Linked DNA regions of Homo sapiens: all the other regions are linked to region 3. Evidence: fine-mapped expression QTL. A gene starts in region 3. Each other region holds a variant in brackets. All regions are shown on one strand. Distances are from middle to middle. Region 1 has its middle 38 kb from the start of GBP6. Region 2 holds the start of LOC105378838 (a long non-coding RNA gene). Region 3 holds the start of GBP5 (guanylate binding protein 5).

Region 1 (8,023 bases), 130 kb before region 3:
GTATATAAAAAAATGCTTAACATGTCTTAGATCTGGCACGATGGCTGAATAGGAATAGCTCCGGTCTGCAGCTACCAGTGAGACCAATGCAGAAGGCAAGTGATTTCTGTGTTTCCAACTGAGGTACCCTGTTCATCTCATTGGGACTGGTTAGGCAGTGGGTGTAGTCTTCTGCATTTCCGACTGAGGTACCCTGTTCATCTCATTGAGACTGGTTAGGCAGTGGTGCAGCTCACAGAGAGCGAGCAGAAGCAGGGTGGGGCATTGACTCACCTGCGAAGTGCAAGGAGCCAGGGACCTCCCTCCCCCAGCCAAGGGGAGCCCTGAGGGACTGTGCTACCCACCCAGATACTACGCTTTTCCGTGTGGTTTTTGCAATCTGCAGACCAGGATATTCCCTCGTGCCTATACCACCAGGACCCTGGGGTTTCAAGCACAAAACTGGGCAGCTGTTTGAGAAGACACCGAGCTGGCTGCAGGAATTTTTTTTTTTCCCCTAGTGGTGGAATCCCAGCAAGACAGAATCATTCATTCTCATGGAAAGGGGGCTGAAGCCAGGGAGCCAAGTTGTCTTGCTCAGCGGGTCCCACTCCTACGGAGCCCAGCAAGCTAAGAAACACTGGCTTGAAATTCTCACTGCCAGCACAGCAGTCTGAAGTTGACCTGGGACAATTGAACCTGGTTGGGGGAGGGTCGTCCACCATTACTGAGGTTTGAGTAGGCGGTTTTCTCCTGACAGTGCTAAGGAGGCTGGGAAGTTTGGACTGGGTGGAACTCAACAGAGCACTGCAAAGCAGCTGTGGCCAGACTGCCTCTCTAGATTCCTCCTCACTGGGCAGAGCATCTCTGAAGGAAAGGCAGCAGCCCCAGTCAGGGGCTTATAGATAAAACTCCCATCCCCCTGGGACAGAGACCTGAGGGAAGGGGTGGCTGTGGGCACAGCTTCAGCAGATTTAAATGTTACTGCCTACCAGCTCTGAAGAGAGCAGTTGATCCTGATGAGGAGGATTCTCCCAGCACAATGCTTGAGCTCTGCTAAAGGACAGACTGCCTCCTCAAGTAGGTCCCTGACTGGGAGAGACCTCCCAACAGGGGTTGACAGAGATCTCATACTGGAGAGTTCCAGCTGGCATCAAGCCAGTGCCCCCCCTGGGACACAGCTTTTGGAGGAAGGAGCAGGCAGCAATCCTTGCTGTTCTGCAGCCTCTGCTGGCGATACCAGCAAACAGGGTCTGAAGTGGACCTCCAGCAAACTGCAACAGACCTGCAGAAGAGAGGCCTGACTTTGAGAAGAAAAACTAACAGAAAGCAAAAATACCAACATCAACAAAAGGGACCCCCACACAAAAACCCTGTTCAAAGGTCATCAGCCTCAAAAATCAAAGGTAGACAAATCCACAAAGATGACGAAAAACCAGCACAAAAAAGCTGAAAATTCCAAAAAACAGAATGCCTCTTCTCCAAATGATCCCAACTCCTCTCCAGCAAGGGCACAAAACTGGACAGAGAATGAGTTTGACAAATTGACAGAAGTAGGCTTCAGAAGGTGGGTAGTAACAAACTCCTCTGAGCTAAAGGAGCATGTTCTAACCCAATGCAAGGAAGCTAAGAAACTTGATAAAAGATTACAGGAACTGCTAGCTAGAATATCCAGTTTAGAGAAGAGCATAAATGACCTGATGGAGCTGAAAAAAAAAAACCATGATAACTTCATGAAGCATTCGGAAGTATCAATAGCCGAATCAATAGCAGAAGAAAGGATGTCAGAGATTGGAGATCAACTTACTGAAATAAGGCGTGAAGACAAGATTAGAGAAAAGAGAATAAAAAGGAACGAACAAAGCCTCCAGGAACTATGGGACTAAGTGAAAAGACCAAACCTACAATTGATTTGTGTACCCAGAAGTGACGGGGAGAACGGAACCAAGTTGGAAAACACACTGCAGGATATTATCCAGGAGAACAGCAAGACAGGCCAACATTCAAATTCAGGAAATATAGAGAAGACCACTATAATACTCCTTGAGAAGAGCAACCCCAAGACACATAATCGTCAGATTCTCCAAGGTTGAAACAAAGGAACACACGTTAAGGGCAGTCAGAGAGAAAGCTCAGGTTACCTACAAAGGGAAGCCCATCAGAGTAACAGCAGATCTGTCTGTAGAAACCCTACAAGCCAGAAGAGAGTGGGGGCCAATATTCAATATTCTTAAAGAAAAGAATCTTCAATCCAGAATTTCATATCCAGCGAAACTAAGCTTCGTAAGTGAAGGAGAAATAAAATCCTTTCCAGACAAGCAAATGCTGAGAGATTTTGTCACCATGGGGCCTGCCTTACAAGAGCTCCTGAAGGATGCACTAAATATGAAAAGGAAAAACTGGTACCAGCCACTGCAAAAACATACCAAAATATAAAGACCATTGGCACCATGAAGAAACTACATCAACTAATGTGCAAAATAACCAGGTAATATCATAATGACAGGATCAAATTCACATATAATAATATTAACCTTAAATGTAAATGGGCTAAATGCCCCAATTAAAGACACAGACTGGCAAACTGGATAAAGAGTCAAGACCCATCCGTGTGCTATATTCAGGAGACCCATCACACTTGCAAAGACACACATAGGCTCAAGATAAAGGGATGGAGAAATATTTGCCAAGCAAATGGAAAGTGAAAAAAAAAAAAAGGAGGGGTTGCAATCCTAATATCTGATAAAACAGACTTAAAACCAACAAAGATCAAAAAAGACAAAGAAGGGCATTACATAATGGTAAAGGGATCAATAAAATGAGAAGGGCTAACCATCCTAAATATATATGCTCTCAAAACAGGAGCACCTAGATTCATAAAACAAGTTCTTAGAGACATACAAAGAGACTTAGACTCCCACACAATATAGTTGGAGACTTTAACAGCCCACTGTCAATAGTAGACAGATCAAGGAGACAGAAAATTAACAAGGATACTGAGGACTTGAACTCAGCTTTGGACAAAGCAGACCTAATAGACATCTACATAATTCTCCACCCCAAGTCAACAGAATATACATTCTTCTCAGCATCACATAGCACTTATTCTAAAATCGACCACATAATTGGAAGTAAAACACTCCTCAGCAAGTGCAAAAGAACAGAAATCTTAACAAACAGTCACTCAGACCACAGTGCAAACAAATTAGAACTCAGGATTAAGAAACTCACTCAAAACCACACAACTACGTGGAAACTGAACAACCTGCTCCTGAATGAATACTGGTTAAATAACAAAATGAAGGCAGAAATAAAGATGTTCTTTGAAACCAATGAGAACAAAGACACAATGTACCAAAATCTCTGGGTCACATTTAAAGCAGTATTTAGAGGGAAATTTATAGCACTAAATGCCCACAAGAGAAAGCAGAAAAGATCTACAACTGAAACCCTAACATCAAAATTAAAATAACTAGGCCCAGCGTGGTGGCTTATATCTGTAATCCCCTCACTTTGTGAGGCCGAGGCGGGTGGATCATGAGGTCAGGAGATTGAGACTATTCTGGCTAACATGGTGAATCCCCATCTCTAATAAAAATACAAAAATTAGCCAGGCATGGGGGCATGCGCCTGTAGTCCCAGCTACTCGGGATGCTGAGGGAGGAGAATTGCTTGAACCTGGGAGGCGGAGGTTGCAGAGAGCTGAGATCGTGCCACTGCACTCCAGGCTAGGTGACAGAGGAAGACTCCATCTCAAAAAAAAAAAAAAA[G/AAAG]TAGAACTAGAGAAGCAAGAGCAAACAAATTCAAAAGCTAACAGAAGACAAGAAATAACTAAGATCAGAGCAGAACTGAAAGAGATAGAGACACGAAAAACCCTTCAAATAATCAGTGAATACGGGAGCTGGTTTTTTGAAAAGATCAACAAAATAGACCACTAGCCAGACTAATAAAGAAGAAAAGAGAGAAGAATCAAATAGACGCAACAAAAAATCATAAAGGGGATATCACCACTGATCCCACAAAAATACAAATTACCATCAGAGAATACTATAAACACCTCTACACAAATAAACTAGAAAATTTAGAAGAAATGGATGAATTCCTGGACACATACACCCTGCCAAGACTAAACCAGGAAGAAGTTGAATCCCTGAATAGACCAATAACAAGTTCTAAAATTGAGGCAGTAATTAATAGCCTACCAATGAAAAAAAGCCCAGGACCAGACAGATTCCAGCCAAATTCTACCAGACGTAGAAATAGGAGCTGGTACCATTCCTTCTGAAACTATTCCAAACAACAGAAAAAGAGAGAATCCTCCCTAACTCATTTTATGAGGCCAACATCATCCTAATACCAAAACCTGGCAGAGACACAACAAAAAAAGAAAATTTCAGGCCAATATCCCTAATGAACGTCTATGCGAAAATGCTCAATAAAATACTGGCAAACGGAATCCAGCAGCACATCAAAAATGATCAAGTCAGCTTCATACCTGGGATGCAAGGCTGGTTCAACATATGCAAATCAATAAACATTATCACATAAACAGAACCAATGACAAAAACCACATGACTATCCCAATAGATGCAGAAAAGGCCTTCAACAAAATTCAACACCCCTAATGCTGAAAACTCTCAATAAACTAGGTATTGATGGAACGTATCTCAAATTAATAAGAGCTATTTATGACAAACCCACAGCCAATATCATACTGAATGGGCAAAAACTGGAAGCATTGCCTTTAAAAACCAGCACAAGACAAGGATGCCCTCTTGCAGCACTCCTATTCAACATAGTATTGGATGTTCTGGCCAGGGCAATCAGGCAAGAGAAAGAAGTAAAGGGTATTCAAATAGGACAAGAGGAAGTCAAATTGTCTCTGATTGCAGATGACATGATTGTGTATTTAGAAAACCCCACCGTTTCAGCCCAAAATTTCCTTAAGCTGATAAGCAACTTCAGCAAAGTCTCAGGAAATAAAATCAATGTGCGAAAATCACAACCATTCCTATACACCAATAATAGACAAAAAGAGAGCCAAATCATGAGTGAACTCCAATTCACAATTGCTACAAAGAGAATAAAATACCTAGGAATCCAACTTACAAGGGATGTGAAGGACCTCTTCAAGGAGAACTACAAACCACTGCTCAAGGGAATAAGAGGTGACACAATAAATGGAAAAACATTTCACGCTCATGGATAAGAAGAAGTAATATTGTGAAAATGGCCATACTGCCCAAGGTAATTTATAGATTCAATGCCATCCCAACCAAACTACCATTGACTTTCTTCACGGAATTGGAAAAAACTACTTTAAAGTTCATATGGAACCAAAAAAGAACCCGCATAGCCAAGAAAATCCTAAGCCAAAAGAGCAAAGCTGGAGGCATCACGCTACCTGACTTCAAACCATACTACAAGGCTACAGTAACCAAAATAGCATGGTACTGGTGCCAAAACAGATATATAGACCAATGGAACAGGACAGAAGCCTCAGAAATAACACCACACATCTACAACCATCTGATCTTTGACAAAGTTGACAAAAACAAGCAATGGGGAAGGATTCCCTATTAAATAAATGGTGTTGACTGGCTAGTCATATGTAGTAAACTGAAACTGGACCCCTTCCTTACACCTTGTACAAAAATTAACTCAAGATGGATTAAAGACTTAATGTAAGACCTAAAACCATAAAAATCCTTGAAGAAAACCTAGGCAATACTATTCAGAACATAGGCATGGGCAAAGACATCATGTCTAAACACCAAAACAATGGCAACAAAAGCCAAAATTGACAAATGGGATCTAATTAAACTAAAGAGCTTCTGCACAGCAAAAGAAACCATCATCAGACTGAACAGGAAACCTACAAAATGGGAGAAAATTTTTGAAATCTATCCATTTGACAGAGGGCTAATATCCAGAACCTACAAAAAACTTAAACAAATTTACAAGAAAAAAACAAACAACCCCATCAAAAAGTTGGTGAAGGATATGAACAGACACTTCTCAAAAGAAGACATTTTTGCAGCCAACAAACATATGAAAAAAAGCTAATCATCACTAGTCATTAGAGAAATGCAAATCAAAACCACAGTGGGATACTATCTCATGCCAGTTAGAATGGCAATCATTAAAAAGTCAGGAAACAACAGATGCTGGAGATGATGTGGAGAAATAGGAAAGCTTGTACACTGTTGGTGGGAGTGTAAATTAGTTTAACCATTGTGGAATACAGTGTGGTGATTCCTCAAGGATCTAGAACTAGAAATACCATTTGACCCTGCAATCCCATTACTGGGTATATACCCAAAGGATTATAAATCATTCTACTATAAAGACACACGCACACATATGTTTATTTTGGCACTTTTCACAACAGCAAAGACTTGGAACCAGCCCAAATGCCCATCAATGATAGACTGGATAAAGAAAATGTGGCACATATACACCATGGAATACTACGCAGCCATGAGAAAGGATGAGTTCATGTCCTTTGCAGGGACATGGATGATGCTGGAGACCATCATTCTCAGCAAACTAACACAAGAACAGAAAACCAAACACCACATGTTCTCATTCATAAGTGGGAGCTGAACAATGAGAATCATGGACACAGGGAGGAGAATATCACACACTGGGGCTTGTTAGGGGTGGGAGACTAGGGGAGGGATAGCATTAGGAGAAATACCTAAAGTAGTTGATGGGTTGATGGGTGCAGCAAACCACCATGGCACATGCATACTTATGTAACAAAACTGCACGTTCTGCATATGTACCCTACAACTTAAACTCTATTTAAAAAAAGCAACTACAGGCCAATATCTCTGATAAATATTGATGCAAAAATTTTCAACACTACATTACCATATCAAATTCAACAATACATTGAAAATAATTTATGACTAAGTCGGACTTATCCCAGGGATTCAAGGTTGTTTCCACATATGCAAATCAAACAATGTGATACATTATAGCAACATAATGGAGAACAAAAACCATTTGATCATTTCAATTGATGCTGAAAAAGTATGTGATAAAATTCAACATCCTTTCACAATAAAAACCCTAATAAAACTGGGTATAGAAGGAACATACTTCAACACACTAAAAGCCATATGTGACAGACTCACAGCCAATATCATACTGAATGGGGGAACACTGAAAGCCCATTCTCTAATACCTGGAAGATAACAAGGATACCCACTTTACCACTGTTATTCAACATAGTACTAGAAGTTCTAGGTCGAGCAACTGGACAAGAGAATGTCATAAAGGGTATCCAAATTGGAAAGGAAGAAGTCAAATTATCTTTGTTTGCACATAACATGATCTTATATTTGGAAAAACCTAAAAACTCCACCAAAAACTATTAGAGCTGATAAATTCAGTAAAGTTTCAGGATACAAAAGTAATATACACAACTCATAGCATTTCTATATGCCAACAGTAAACAATCTGACACAGAAATAAAAAAGCAATCACATTTACAGTAGCTGCTAATAAAATTTTATATCTAGGAATTAACCAAAAGAATGGAAAGATCTCTACAACGAGGTCTGAGGCATGGTGGCTCAGCCTGTAATCCCAGCACTTTGGGAGACCGAGGTGGGCAGATCACCTGAGGTCAGGAGTTCAAGACCAGCCTGCCCAACATGGTGAAACTAACATGGTGAAACTCCATCTCTACTAAAAATACAAAAATTAACTGGCTGTGGTGGCAGGTACCTGTAATCCCAGCTACTTGGGGGGCTGAGGAAGGAGAATTGCTTGAACCTGGGAGGTGGAGGCTGCAATGAGCTAAGATTGTGCCATTGCACTCCAGCCTGGGTGACAAGAGCAAAATTCTGTCTCAAAACAAAAACAAAAACAAAACAAAACAAAAACAAAATCTCTACAATGAAAACTACAAAACACTGAGGAAAGAAATCGAAGAGTATACAAAAAATGGAAAGTTATTCCATTTGCATGGATTTGAAGAATGAACATTTTAAAAATGTCCATACTACCCAAAGAAATCTACAGATTCAGTGAATTC
Region 2 (8,023 bases), 660 kb after region 3:
CTCCAGTAAGGTTGAAGGAGATAGGAAATGAAAGATTAAGCTCATCCCAAGTTAATAGCATTATAAGTTTTTATGGTTTATGAAATTTAGTTTGCAGCTTTTCAAACCCCAGGTAGTAAAAATACACATAGATGAAAACCCTCAAACAATAAAGAACACATTTGGACCTAATGACTTTTAACTCTTATGATGGGATACTTGAAAATCTAGTATAAAGAGACTCCTTTGGGATATAGCAAATGGGACTTGATGATGACACAGGCAGATTCCTTTAGACTCTCTCTCTTCTTTAGAGAGGTGATTTTCAACTTATCTTTGCAATTGAGATACCCTGGTGGTAACAGTTTATTATAATTATTTTATTCTATTTATATACCTTCCCCCACTCTTAAAGTATAGCAAACAAATTTCACTTACAGAGTTTTGATATACCTTTGACTCATTGGGACAGGGGCCTTTTTTAGCTGCATGCTCTATCCCCAGAATCTTGCACAGTCCTTGCACATAACTGGTGCTTAATAAATGTTGAATGAATGAATGACTATGAGCACTCCAGAGTTCTAGAAGGCTGGAATTGCAAATCACTCCTTTAGGACAATTGATTTTTCCTTAACAGAGATTATTCCAAACTTGTTCATCAATAGGTCTGCAGTATCTTTAGTTGACAAGAAAGTAGCATAGGATAGTGGCTAATCTGATGGACATAAATACAAGATGTCTTCGGTTGAAGTTTCAACTTAGCTGGGTGAACTTGACCATATTCAACTTTTTAATCTGTTTCCACATTTGGAACACAATAATAACTATCTAGGATTTTTGTGAGGATCAAATAAGTTAAAATACTCAAACTGTTTAGTAAAATGCTCAACACATATCTGGCTCTCAGTATATGTTAACTTTCAAAAAGAGGACACTTTAAGCATTTAGCTTAACCTAAAAGAGAAGAAGAGAGTGAGAGTGCTGGTAGTGTGAGAATTTCAAAGAAAGAGATAGCTTGTGGTATGGTCCAGAGTTCAGACTGAAGGAGATGAAGGGGTGGTACAACTTTGTTGCAGAATGGGCAGCTGGAAATATCACTGCTGCAAAGGAACTATCATGTCCTGAATATCTGCTGGGTACTTGAATGGTCAAACATGCTCCAGTCTCTAGGCCTTTGCCTCTTTTTCTCTTTGCTTAAATAGCCTTTCTCCAGATATCTATGTTGTCCATCTCCCTGTTCATTCAGGACTCTGTTCAAATGATACTCCTTCCCGGCAAGCCTATCACAAAAGGAACCTTCTGCTCATAAAGTAAAATGTCTCAGAGAATCCTAAACTCATTATGCTAAACGGAAAGTTAAATTAACCCTGGAGACTTTTAATTTTTCTTTACATCCTCTCTAATTCCCTATCTTTAACAGTAATGATAATTACATACTTTATTTTTCTTCTTAGCACTTTCACTATTGATATTACGTGTCTTTATCACCTACTATATTATAGGTGCATGAGTGCAGAGTGTCTTCTGTTCACTGTGACTAGAAGAGTGCTTGTTCATGGTAGGCATGCAATGAATTTTTTTTTGTCAAATCACATACACTTTTATCATTTGAACCTCACAAGCACTCTGCATGGTAAATGGGTATAGCCTCAGGTTGTGGGGGAACACATGGTGTTAGAGAGTTTAAACCACTTGCCAAAGATAACATAGCCAATGAGTCTTAGAACCAATATTTATGATTTATTTTAATAATCTTCTCACTATATCTCATAGTTTATGACATTTTATTTATTTTGAGACAGGGTCTTGCTCTGTTGCCCAGGCTGGAGTGCAGTGGTGTGATCATAGCTCACTGCTGCTTGAGAATTTTGGGTTCAAGCAATCCTCCCACCTCAACCTATAAATTAGTTTATATATATATTTTTAATTTTTCAAAAGCAGTTGGGACTTCCAGATTTAATGGCAGTACATGTTATGTAAAATAAGGCAAATAGGAATTAAAAAAGGACAGAGATCCTATACATAAAATTTAAAAAACAGATGCTCTGTGGCATCTGAGATAAATACAATATTGCCACAATTCTTTTTTTCTGGGCCCATGGTAGATGGTAGAAATGTGCAGGTTCCCATTGACCTTGGCCCTCAATCTCTTATTCCAAGAATTTGAGTCTCAGCCTCAGAAGGTGGAATCATCAAGTTAGCCTGTTTTCTTTACTAGATTATAAACTCTTTCAAACTAGGGACTATGTCTTCATCTCTGAACCCCTTACAACCTTTAGCATGATGTCTTGCCAGATGTTCGGTGTCTGTAGAATGTCAAACATCCATGCTTGCATACATTGCAAGGGAAGTTGGGCTAAACACTTCTACCATCCTGCCTTCTTCTAAGAGTTAATTATTATTACTATTTTTTTTTCTTAGACAGAGTCTTGCTCTGTCACCCAGGCTGAGTGCAGTGGTGTGATCTCGGCTCACTGCAACCTTTGCCTCCCAGGTTCAAGTGATTCTTGTGCCTCAGCCTCCTGAATAGCTGGGATTACAGGCGCCCGCCTCCGTGCCCGGCTAATTTTTTGTATTTTTAGTAGAGACGAAGTTTTGCCATGTTGGCCTGGCTGGTCTCGAGTGATCCACCTTCCTCAGCCTCCTAAAGTGCTAGGATTAGAGGAATGAGCCACTGCACCTGGCCTTAATCTTTTAAAAAGGACTTGAAGTGTTAATATGTACTTATTAGAGTCATATACGTCAAACGCCAGCATGAGGGAAGTTGAAGTGGGTAAGAGTGCCAGTTTACATGGGTCATATATTCTTGAACTCCTGACCTCAAATGATCCACCCGCCTTGGCCTCCCAAAGTGCTGGGATTACAAGCATGAGTCACCGCACCTGGCCAAGGGGCATATATTTTCACTGTAACAGATGCCCAACCCATTCGAGCATGAACATGAGTAGTACCGTAGGTGGAGCTCACTTTGTACCCTGGAAAAGAACTTTGACTTAATGGCTGGGTTGGAGCTGTAAAAGTTCTGTACTATATACCATGGAAGAGATAACTGTAAGCAGATATAATTTTAGAGCAAAGGTGCTATTTGATTCTTTATCAGTAGATATTAAATTTGGCTGTTTGTAATAGAAAACCCAAATGGCGGTGTCTTGAGTCAAATAGAGGTTTATTTTTCTTAAATAAAATGAAAAGTCTGAAAGAATGGTATACAAGGATGGTACAGAGGCTCAAGGAGAGCATATCCCTCAGATCTTTGTAATTTCTCTTGGCCTTCCCCTTGTGGTCAAATGCAAGTGGCTGCTGCAACACTTGCCATTATGTGTGCAGTTTAGGATGCACGAAGGAGAAAGAACAAAGGGCACAAAGGACTCAAAGGGCACAAAGGGCCTGTCAGCTGAGTCTGCCCCTCCCTCTTTGAGGAATTTTCCTTTTTCCTGCCTCCAAACAGCTGCTTATGTCTCCTTGGGCAGAACAGTGAGACATGGATACCTCTATCTACAAAGGTGGCTGGGAAATTTAGTATTTATTAGCTGGGCAACTTTGCCCTCATGCCCCAATAAAATGAAGGTTGTATCACTGAGGAACAATGGGAGAATAATTGGATGTTGAACAAACATCTAGCAGCCTTGCAATAATTATCCATTAAAGAACTTCAGCATAGTCCCATGGAATCCCTTAAAGAACATTACATTTTGGTGGATCTTCTGATAAATTAGTTGCAGAATACTCCGAAGTAGCTGTATGAGCTTATCTTTTGGTGGGGATATTAAAGAGTATTAAAACCCTGAAATGCTGAGTGCTACATAGAAGGAGTCTTGGAGGCTGGGCATGGTGGCTCACGCCTGTAATCCAAGCACTTTGGGAGGCCAAAGCGGCAGGATTGCTTGAAGCCAGGAGTTTGAGAACAGTCTGGGAACAAAGTGAGACTCTGTCTCTATAAAAAATACAAAAAATTAGCTGGGCGCAGTGGTGTGTATCTGAAATCCCAGCTACTGGGGAGTCTGAGGGAAAATTGCTTGAGCTGAGG[A/T]TGTTGAAGATACAGTGAGCTATGATTGTACCACTGCACTCCAGCCTGGGTGACAAAGTGAGAACTTGTCTCAAAAAAAAAAAAAAAAAAAAAAATAAAAGAAAAAAGGAGTCTTGGATTTGGGAGTTAGAAGGCATGGGTTCAAACTTTGTCTTCATCATGGTTCATTATGAGCCACTTTGATGTTCCATTCAATTATATGTATAAAGGAGATATGACAAACTGATTTTAAAATTTATATCAAGTACAAATGATTAAGAGTAAATAAGACATTTCTAAAGAAGCAGTACAGAGTAGAATAACTTGCTTATCAAAAATTAAGAATTTATTATAAAGCTCTATTTCTTCAGACAGTCTGGAATAAGGTGCAGAACTGTACAAATTGACCAACAAAGGAGAAAAGAGAGCCCAGAAACAGACCAATACAAAAACGGAAATTTTATTCATGACTGAGATGACACTGCAAATTGTTTAGGAAAAGATGACATTTTTAATAAGTGGCACTGGAACAATTGGTTGTGTGGTTGTGTGAATTTAAAAACTAAAATTGCAACCTTATCTCACACTATATATAAAAAACCAAATCCATGTGGATTAAGACTATACAAGCCAAAACTATAATGTTGAGCAGAAAGAGTAAGTTTCCAGTATGTTTCCATTTGAAAAAAGTACAAAAATATGCAAAAGCACATAATATATTGCTTAGCAAAACAAACATGGTTAAATGTAAATAAAAATGAGGGAAGGATAAAGAGAAAATTCAGGGAAGTATTTCTTAGGGGAAATGAAATGGGACACAGAGGACTTAAAGGTCCTTGTCCTTAAGTTGAGGACATCTACACAGGAGCGTGTTATACTTTATACCTACACCAATTTTATACGAATTCCTTTGTATCTACATATTACTTAAAAAATGTTTTAAAGTAGGCCGGGGATGGTGAGTCATACTTGTTTTTTTTGTGTGTTTTTTTTTCTGAGATGAAGTCTTGCTCTTGTCCCCTAGGCTGGAGTGCAATGGCGCGATGTTGGTTCACTGCAACCTCCGCCTCCCAGGTTCAAGCGATTTTCCTGCCTCAGCCTCCTGAGTAGCTAGGATTACAGGAGCCTGCCACCACGCCTGGCTAATTTTTGAATTTTTAGTAGAGATGGGGTTTCACCATGTTGGCCAGGCTGGTCTCGAACTCCTGACCTCAGGTGATCCGCCCACCTCAGCCTCCCAAAGTGCTGGGATTATAGGCATCAGCCACGGCGCCCAGCCCATACTTGTAATCTCAGCACTTTGGGAGGCCCAGGCAGGAGAATCACTTGAGCCCAGGAGTTTGACACCAGCCTGGGCAACATGGAGAAGCTTCGTCTCTACAAAAAATAAAAACATTAGCTGGGTGTGGTGATGTACTCCTGTAGTCCCAGCTACTTGAGAGAGTGAGATGGGGGGATTGCTTGAGCCTAGGAATTCGAGGCTGCAGTAAGCTGTGATCACATCACTGCACTCCAGCCTGGGCGACAGAGTGAGACCTTATCTCAAACAAAACAAAACAAAACAAAACAAAAAACAAAAAACAAACAAAAAAAATTAAATGTAGATGGGAAAGACATCAGTATCATTGAATTATTCTGAGTATCAAGTATGAAAATACACGAAGAAACATTAAATACATGTAAGTTATTCACTATACTATACTTCTTGAAGACAAAATTATTTCTAATCCATCTTTATATCCTTAGCACAGTGTCTGAAATACAGTGTGTACTTTACTGTTTTTTGAAAGAATAATTGAATAAGAAAGCAATTTTGATGTTAACATATATTAATACAGGGTTTTAAAATGTGATATTATTAGAACTAATAGAACTATCTCATTCTATTTTTAGAACTAGATATTATAAGAACTATGATATTATTAGAACATATATTAATACAGGATTTTTAAATGTGATATTATTAGAACTTCTTTAAAATGTAATTTATTAGAACTAATTCCTTCTAGTATTTACTAATAAACATATTACTGTACTCATTCACTCCTTTGGTAATTTATTTATTCTTTAAACATTTATTAAAGTCTGCAATGTTCCAGATACCATGCTAGTTACTGGGGGAGCTGAGGTGAACTCTACATGGTTCTTATTCCCAAGGGGCTCACAGTCACGTGGAAGAGACAAACAGATACCTGGATAATAGATAACAATTGTTGCTTCTTTAGACCATTTCTCAGTGTAATACGACTATGTCTACGTATCTGGTTGACTTTTTATTTTCTTTAGATAATGGAGACATTTTCAAAGTTTGACTTAATGAGTGCATAGTAAGTCACTCAGCTCTATTTCACAAGCATTGCAGGGAAATGAGATTTTAATGTCTCATATGAACTAGAGGCTGGAGAGTAGGCATGTTCTTGGCTTTGAACTGAGTTTAGTTCAGACTGGAATCAGGTGTGAATAGGAACAGGATCTATTTAATCAACACCTGTGGTGAAACTGGCTCTACTCAGAGAGAAGTGCTTTAAGTGCAGAGAGTCTGCATTTGACAGACTTCAGCACCTGGCTAGCAACATAATAGCTAGTGCCAACATGGGACTTGATAGTCCTGGGGAATATGAATGCAGCAAAGATGAAGTCCATAATGAAGAGTAAAGAAGACTGGAACTTCAGATGGGTTGACACTAAGGTGATTACATTAAACAAGATGGAAAAGCATTGAGGACAAGATTTTCCAAATCATATTCCTTGGAATGTCATTCCTTCAAAGATGCTTTGTAAGAAAAGGGATTCAAGTATGCTCAATAAATGTTGATTCCATTTTTTTTTGTAGATTCACAATGCAGAGCATTGTATAAAAAAGGCAACCATAAAACCTATTTAACTTCATTTAGAAAGTTCACAAAATAATTGAAGAAGCTGCTCAAGATTTTATGCTTTAGCCATTTCTATTTTTATTTTATTTTTGAGACACGGTCTTGCTGTGTCACCCAGGCTGGAGTGCAGTGGTGCAGTCCCAGCTCACTGCAGCCTCAACTTCCTGGCCACAAGTGATCTTCCCACCTCAGCCTCCAGAGTAGGTGGGACTACAGATGTGTACCACCACGCCCGGCTGATTTTTAAATTTGTTTTGTAGAGATGGGATTTCGCCATATTGCCCAGGCTGGTCTCGAACTCCTGAGTTCAAGCGATCCACCTGCTTTGGTATCTCAAATTGCTGAGATTACAGGCATGAGCCACTGCACCCGGCTTCTATTTTTAGTTATGCCTTATTTGCCCAACAAACATTTCTTGAGTGCCTATAGTTAGGCAATGGAGCAATTGGCTATGTTGTTAGTGATGTGGGGGAAGGTGAAATAATTTTTACATGAAAAAAACTATTGAACTAAGTTATTGTCTGTAGAGTCACAGCAGTACGTACATATGGCTAACTTAAATTAAAAGGTCGTGAACATCTGCTAGAGAAACAGTGTACCACCTAGTGACAATTCCTGAAAGTGCAGTAATATGCCATAGATGGTTTTTCAATTTTTGGTCAAATGGAGATAGTGACCTTCGCACAATCTGAGGTCCCTGAGAAGTGAATAAAATTTGGGTGGGGCATTAATTTAAAAAGTCGTGTTGCAGAAGTAATACATATTAATTGTAGAAAATTAGAAACAGACAAATTGGAAAAAAGAAAATAAAAATAAATCAGGAAAAAATATACACACATACATACACATATTTTTCCACATTTTTCTATGTATTTATAGGTACTATATTTTATACTATAATTTGTACTATAATTGTTATTTATTATAAATGTTCTTTTGTAACTATATTATACATAATAATCATATATATCTATTTATGTCAATGAATATTAATCTATACACTATTTTAAAATTATTGTATAATATTTCATTATGTGGGTATATCATAATTAACCTTTTCCTACTGATAAATATTTAGGTTGTTTAAGAATTTTCATGATTATGAATACCATTGTAATGAACGTCCATTTTATTCTTGACTGATTTATGTTTTCAAAATGAA
Region 3 (8,023 bases):
GAGAAGGCAACCTAGACAAGGAGAACTCCTGATCAAGTATGAGCAAAACCTAGAATGGGTAATAGAGGAGAAGATCTTGAATATCAGTTAGGATCACAAAATCAGTTGCAGCAAAGAGGACTATAGCTTAGACTTTCCTATTGTGTGTGTGTGTGTGTGTGTGTATATATATATATTTAAACTAACGACCAGCCACAAAATTGAAGAAGCCATTAAGGAAAGGTTGATCTTTGCATAAGATAGGGGCAATATGGATGGGATACCCACAACATCTGTGAAGGCCATCTCCCTTTATCACTCAACCTTGCACATTCCAATGGCATCTCACTGCAAACATCAGAGATCCTTCATCTAAGCATTTTTTCTCAGCCCACACGTGGGCCAGGTCAGGAGTGCAAGGGGGTTATGCTTTCAGGACCAGTCTTTATCCAGAAATGAAAGGAAGTTGGAAGAAAAGTACCCCAGGTTTCTAACCCACCCAAGAGGGAAATTGGAGGCAGATTTTACATTGTTTCCTAGAGTTACCTGAGGAGATCTAACTCCTGGTTCCCACAACAAAACCTGCTAGATATGTTCCCAGTCACTGGCTTCATTCCGTTCCAGTTTTCACTTTCCCACTGTCCTACCCCGTTTCTTATGAGCACCTTCAAAATAAATATCCCTTGCTCACAAATCCTTGTCTAGGAACTAAAGCTCCAAAAATACTGCCTAACAGCCACTCTGTTCATTGTAAAATAAAGATAGAAAAAAAATTGTCTTGTAGGATTGAAACCAGGATAATATGAGATATTTAGTGTCCAGATCTTAGAATCCATTTATTAAAAAGGGACAATAATAATGATGATTATTATGATGATTCACTCAACAAACACAAAAGGACTACAATAAAGTGCTTGGGTTTCAGTCTTAAGATCCATTTATTAGTAGCTCTGTGATTTTGGGCAAGTTACTAAATCTCCCTGTGTCTTAGCTTTTGTAAAATTGGGAGAAAGCATTTGTTGGGAGAATTAAAATAGAATAATCCACACAAAGTAGTGAAACCTGTCCAGGGCATTACAAATGTCTAATAAATAATATCCTTGTTATCATTCATCATGTACTAAGTGCCAAAAACTTTGTCCTTGCCTGTGAGTTAAAGTTCTCAGCTACTGAACCTACTGCGAAAGTAATAAACTTAGTCCTGTGTGAGCAGCTCTAACATTTCACAACAATAGACCTCAAAAATCATATGAGCTCTTCCCCTGGCCTACTCCCAAACTGGAGATGAATGTCAACGTATTTCAAGCTAGGTTTGAAATACCACATACTTTGAACAACTGTGAAAGATCTCAAATTTCTCTTCTAGTAACAACAACAATGGAAGCAGGGAGGAGTATGGCTGGCACTGAAAGGATTCTCTGCAGTTTCTAGGAAACATGCAGTTTCAAAGAAGTCAGGTCAAATACATCCAGCCTATCTACACTAGGTAACAGTTGGGCAATTCCCTTTGTCATCTGGCTTAGTCACTGAATTTCCTTTTTGGTTTCTATTTCCTACAGAGAACTTTCAAAAATCCCCCTTTCTGTTATTCCATATTTTGTATTCAAATTGTCTCCTTTTTCGAGCAGGGAAAATGGGGTGGGAAGAACAAAAACCCCAGGACTGAGTGAAGAAAATAAATGAGAAATCACCACAGTGAAAGTAAAAGACGAGAGTTCGAACTCAGCAAGTTCTCATCGAAGCAGCTTTCTTTTTTCTTTTCTTTTCTTTTTTTTTTTTTTTTTGAGACAGAGTCTCGCTCTGTCACCCAGGCTGAAGTGCAGTGGTGCAGTCTCGGCTCACTGCAAGCTCCGCCTCCCAGGTTCAAGCCATTCTCCTGCCTCAGCCTCCCGAGTAGCTGGGACCACAGGCGCCCGCCACCATGCCCAGGTAATTTTTTGTATATTTTTAGTAGAGACGGGGTTTCATCGTGTTAGCCAGGATGGTCTAGATCTCCTGACCTCGTCATCCACCCGCCTCGGCCACCCAACATGCTGGGATTACAGGCGTGAGCCACCGTGCCCAGTCCCTCATGGAAGCAGTTTTCTTACTAGCTCTAAAATACCTCTTCTCCCGATTTTATAATCAAGGTAATGAGAGGTGACGGCGTGCTGGCAGCCCTTGCAGCCCTCCCTCGCTCTCGGTGCCTCCTCTGCCTGGGCACCCACTCTGGCGGCACTTGAGGAGCCCTTCAGCCCTCCGCTGCACTGTGGGAGCCCCTTCCTGGGCTGGCCGAGGCCGGAGCTGGCTCCCTCAGCTTGCTGGGAGGTGTGGAGGGAGAGGCAGGGGTGGGAACTGGGGCTGCGCCCGGTGCTTGAGGGCCAGCGCGAGTTCTGGGTGGGCTTGGGCTCTGAGGGACCTGCACTCGGAGCGGCCCCAGGCAGTGAGGGGCTTAGCACCTGGGCCAGCAGCTGCTGTGCTCCACTTCTTGCAGGGCCTTAGCTGCCTCCCGGTGGGGCAGGGCTGGGGACCTGCAGCCTGCCATGCCTGAGCCTCCTCCCCTCTCCCGCTCCCCACCTCACCCCGCCATGGGTTCCTGTGCTGCCTGAGCCTCCCCAACCTGTGCTGACCCCTGCTCCACAGCACCCTGTCCCATCCATGGCCCAAGGACCGAGGAGTGCCAGTGCATGGAGCAGGACTGGCAGGCAGCTCCACCTGCCGCCCGGTGCAAGATCCACTGGGTGAAGCCAGCTGGGCTCTTGAGTCTAGTGGGAACTTGGAGAATCTTTATGTCTAGCTAAGGGATTGTAAATACACCAATCAGCACTCTGTATCTATTTAATCTGGTGGGGACTTGGAGAATCTTTATGTCTAGCTAAGGGATTGTAAATGCACCAATCAGCACTCTGTATCTACCTCAAGGTTTGTAAATGCACCAATCAGCACTCTGTATCTAGCTCAAGGTTTGTAAATAGGCCAATCCACACTCTGTATCTAGCTAATCTAGTGGGGACATGAAGAACTTTTGTGTCCAGCTCAGGGATTGTAAACACACCAATCAGCACCCTGTCAAAACAGACCAATCAGCTCTCTGTAAAATGGACCAATCGGCTCTCTGTAAAATGGACCCATCAGCAGGATGTGGGTGGGGCCAGATAAGAGAAGTAGCCAGCAGTGGCAACCCACTGAGGTCACCCTCCAGGCTGTGGAACCTTTGTTCTTTCACTCTTTGCAATAAATCTTGCTGCTGCTCACTCTTTGGGTCCACACTGCCTTTATGAGCTGTAACACTCACTGGGAATGTCTGCAGCTTCACTCCTGAAGCCAGCGAGACCACGAACCCACCAGGAGGAACAAACAACTCCAGACGCGCAGCCTTAAGAGCTGTAACACTCACCGCGAAGGTCTGCAGCTTCACTCCTGAGCCAGCCAGACCACGAACCCACCAGAAGGAAGAAACTCCAAACACATCCGAACATCAGAAGGAGCAAACTCCTGACACGCCACCTTTAAGAACCGTGACACTCAACGCTAGGGTCCGCGGCTTCATTCTTGAAGTCAGTGAGACCAAGAACCCACCAATTCCGGACACGGTAAGACTGGGGCAAGAGGTGGAAGAGATTTGCAAGATTCATTTGGTTTTAGAAACATTCTACAAAGGATAGGATGCAGCTTATCCTGATGTGGTATATCAGACCTCAGTAAAGAATAAATTGTATTCTTATCAGACAGGCAGCAGAATTCATCAAGTACCAGCTGTGTCTGCCTCTTGCTGAATTAGACATCAATGTGTGTGGTGACTAAACTAAGAGTTTGAAATGCCTTCAAATTATTTTTCTTCCTTTGCAATTTTATGACTTATTCAGGATCATAATTTCCACTTAAGTTACCTTCGTCCTTCATAAAATCTGATTAAACTGACTCGAACTTCAGCATGAAAGTTTCAAAAACTATGATAGCTATTATTTTCATGAGAAAGAACAATGAATATGATGCAATGTAAGTAGCTTGCAAACATTAAGGACAAGAAAAAAATGTTGCCCAGAGAGAAGTTTCATGAAAACAGTGATGTATTTTTAGTCATAGTCTTGTACTTTGTTTGAAAGTAGATTTCTTCCTTTAGCAATAGCCCTGACTTAATTCATGTTGGTTTCTTGGCATCTACTCACTTAACTAACCCCTTTTGTGTTGGGTTCTGCTTCTACTACTCTATTGCCTTTACTATTATGAATCACCTAATTTAACAGTTGCCCAACTGGATCCCTCAATACTGTCTGGCAACTGTTCACTCGTTGAAATTCTCTCCTTTGAATTTCTTACCATGACACATACTTCAAGCATTTTGTACTAGTTTGATTTCCATTTATATCCTTAATAAGAGCCTTTTCCTTTTCCTTGAAATTCAAACCAGAAACTATGCAAAATAAGCAAAAGCAAGCAATAACAACTACATATACAAATGCAGGCGCAAAACCCAAACTAGAATCATATGGCTGAAAACAGATGTTTTCTTTCAGAAATCCTTCCACTACCACTTCTGAGCATTTTCTCTTAGTATTTTTTTTTGGGCATTTTCCTTCTTTGCACTTTTTAAAATCTCCTGCAGCTCGCTCACTCTCTTTCATAAGCCAGCAGTTATACTGATGTTAATAAATAGTTGTTTATTTACTTTTGCTTTTTTAGAAAACAAGCTGAAAGAATTGAGTGAAATGCCAGAGAGATACAGATAGCCAGTTGTAGGGCTGGGGTTGGAAATCAAGTCTAATTTAAGGCAAGGGCAAAATGTGCATTTTGTGTGTGTATTTTGAACCATTCTTGCATTGTTTTTATTTGCAAAGGTTATAGGGCTCAAGCAGTTAGGGAGAATGCATCCCAGAACACTAAGTTATGAATAACAGAGCAACAGTTATGTTTGTGGCTTGAACACATTAAATCTGCAATAATGTTTTAGAAATTTGGCTTTACTAAAAGCATTAAAGATGCTATCCAGATGACATTGGGGACAACATGTCAAATACTATTATTAATGTAGATATACAATGCTATTGTCATTCATAAGAGAGTCTGAACACTCAGACACATTCATTCCCTCTTCCTTAGTGACATCATCCCAAATCATAAGATCTTGTAAGCTCTCAATATCTGCTTATAGATTTGGCTTATGTATCTTTTGTTTTTCTAGCTAATTGTTGTAGATCATCACTTCAAGGTGCCCATATCTTTCTAGTGGAAAAATTATTCTGGCCTCCGCTGCATACAAATCAGGCAACCAGAATTCTACATATATAAGGTACTAATACTACATTGAAAATAGATTAGAATGAGAAGAGACCTGCCATTTGAGTCTCTAAATTTGTTGCAAAATTGCCTCTTTCTGGGTCAGGCTTGCACTAGGCATTTCCTGACTCCCATGTCCTAGTGCTACACCATTTGCAAATGGATATCCTATTTTCTGCTGCCAAGCAGTTTCTGTTTTAATTTATGTCAACATAATGATTTCCAGGGCATTAGCTATGAGGAAGCAGGGAGAATGGGTCTTCATAATTGTAAAATGACAGTTTTTGAAATTTGCTAGTAAAGAGATGGAGAATCCAAACCTTTTCATTGTAAGATTTTAGTGAAAGAACTCGTCAAGCGGATAGTGAAGTTTTAGCATCCTTAGTAAATAACCACCTTTAAAATGGAAGAAAACTATCCTTTATGATAAGGCAAAGTAGAAAAGCATATTTTTATGGCATTTGCTTTTTCTCATATAGCTCAAACATTTTTTTTAACCAGAGACTCTTTAGGTTATAGGGATTGATGCTCAGAAGTTAGAAAAAAATAGGTTAAGTATTATTAAAGGAAGTTGTTTTACTCATTCAGTCAATCATAAAATAATCATGCTTTGAAGTTTTGGTTTAATAAAGCACATTAGTAACTATGTAAAAAATTTCAAGTATATCACTAAGAAGCAAACAGCTATGATTTGTTAGATAATGCTGCATAATGACTTGGTAGTATTTAATGTAATGCAGTTTGACTGGACATAGATCTAACTGAAAAAAATGAAGTTGACACAAAGTAAAAGGAACAGTGTAATATATTAATAAAGAACATCATAAAGAATTAATATAGGAACCCAGGGAGGTAAAAACTAAAAAACATAACTAAGCCAAAAACCAATGGAATAAGAGTTAGATTCAAACTAGTAGGTTAGACGCAGGAAATGGATTTTCGTATGCCTATCAAATATTTAAGAACCAGTAGAATGGCCTATAGTAGACATATAAAGGGCCTAGGACTTACTTTTGTTTTAAAATAAAGTCTCTCTATTTTACAGGACTCTTTTTATTTTAAAACTTTTTTTTTCCAGAAACTTAGGCAGTGCTGGGGAGTAGTATGTCCCCAGGTTCAGTAAGCAAAATGACTTCCTTTGCTTATTAAACAAACACCAGAAATTCCAGCCTATCCCATCTGTTCCCTTGCAGGCAAAGTAACATCCTAGACATGGCTTTAGAGATCCACATGTCAGACCCCATGTGCCTCATCGAGAACTTTAATGAGCAGCTGAAGGTTAATCAGGAAGCTTTGGAGATCCTGTCTGCCATTACGCAACCTGTAGTTGTGGTAGCGATTGTGGGCCTCTATCGCACTGGCAAATCCTACCTGATGAACAAGCTGGCTGGGAAGAACAAGGGTGAGTGGTACCAGCAAAGCTCTGCCAAACCCTTCTGTCCATTCACACAGTCACCATCCAGTACGAGGAAGCAAGGAGAGAGTAAGACATGAGGATGAATATTAAAAGCCAATGTTTAGGCTACAGCTGGTCTTTTTATCTTTTGGAAGATGAAGACCAGTTCTCTGTTCCTGACATATCACCTCTTTTTTTTTTCTTTGCCTTGATTTCTTCTTGTAAAATGTATAATATATTCTCCTTGTAAGGAGTAAGACATCAATGAAGTAATTCCCGTATACATAATTATAAACTAGCAACATTTTAGTAGCATAATATTTTTTTAATATCAAAGTTCCAACCTATGGTATTTGATATTGTTTTTCCATTTCTGCATCATCATTCAAATCAATACTGGTTGTACATTCTGCTATCTCCTCATCTTGCTTTCCTTAAACTCTAGCTGAATGATCAAGCAAATCCCCAATTTCCAGAGTTTCTCTTCTATTACAACCTCTCACTCCCCCTGACAGGCTTCTCTGTTGCATCTACGGTGCAGTCTCACACCAAGGGAATTTGGATATGGTGTGTGCCTCATCCCAACTGGCCAAATCACACATTAGTTCTGCTTGACACCGAGGGCCTGGGAGATGTAGAGAAGGTAAGGAAGGATTCCTTTTTTTAACCTCCTAATCTCTGAACTGTCTTTTCACAGGGAGATTTTAGGTTTATTTTTCTAAATTTGTAGTTCCACTTGACCAATGTATACCCCCATTGTTTTCCTTTGTATTTTTAATATTCAGAGTTTGGAAGCCTGACATGAGAAAATACATTTATAAGCCAGAATCAGTATTAGAAGAGCAGTGTTGATGTTGAGCTAGGCAATTAACGCAAATGCATAAACATGATGCATATAAAATCACTGTTACAAGCCTGATCCTGTAGATTATACTAGTTAATAGTGGGTTCTGTTCTTAAATGAACTTGTGTTCCAATCAGAGCTCTAGCACTTGTAGCTTTCTGACTTTGATAAGAGAAGTAAGTCTCTCCAAATGTTTTATTTTTTCTTTGGTCTTTCTTATTCAACTCACTACTTAAAAACAGTAGATACATGGGCCTTTCCTAGTTATATGCTGGTAAGTACTTAACAACCAGCTCAAGGACAAAATAACAAAAACAAAAACAACCATGATTTGTAGCACTTGACTATTTTCTGAATACTCCCATCATAATTGATTTCAAGCTACCAAAGTTAATTCACTAAACTCAGACTTGGGAAGACATGCACACAATTTGCTGTCATGAGTTGGTATGAGTTGGCTCCAGCACACAACTGGATCTTTCTCTTGAACTTCCATTGTTTTTTTTCTGTGTGTGTGTTTTTTGTCTTTGTTTTTGATTTGCCAGGAC

What was found. PIP is the estimated chance that this variant, and not a neighbour inherited with it, causes the effect.
Region 1: its variant is fine-mapped to the expression of GBP5 in whole blood (INTERVAL, PIP above 0.99).
Region 2: its variant is fine-mapped to the expression of GBP5 in whole blood (INTERVAL, PIP above 0.99).

What each region holds. Positions count from the first base shown.
Region 1 is chr1:89,397,965-89,405,987 of GRCh38, reverse strand. No RefSeq gene overlaps it. Among named protein-coding and RNA genes, the nearest start is that of GBP6, 38 kb to the right of the region's middle. The variant G/AAAG (reference allele first, on the strand shown) is at 3,750.
Region 2 is chr1:88,607,762-88,615,784 of GRCh38, reverse strand. The region is part of intron 1 of PKN2-AS1 (PKN2 antisense RNA 1); the gene reads left to right. LOC105378838 (a long non-coding RNA gene) reads right to left here and starts at 498. Exons shown (of 3, transcript XR_947572.4): 1 at 418-498. The variant A/T (reference allele first, on the strand shown) is at 4,007.
Region 3 is chr1:89,267,980-89,276,002 of GRCh38, reverse strand. It overlaps GBP5 (guanylate binding protein 5), which reads left to right and starts at 3,143. Exons shown (of 12, transcript NM_052942.5): 1 at 3,143-3,551; 2 at 5,141-5,248; 3 at 6,429-6,637; 4 at 7,147-7,274. The coding sequence starts at 6,448. It also overlaps the pseudogene LOC100421401.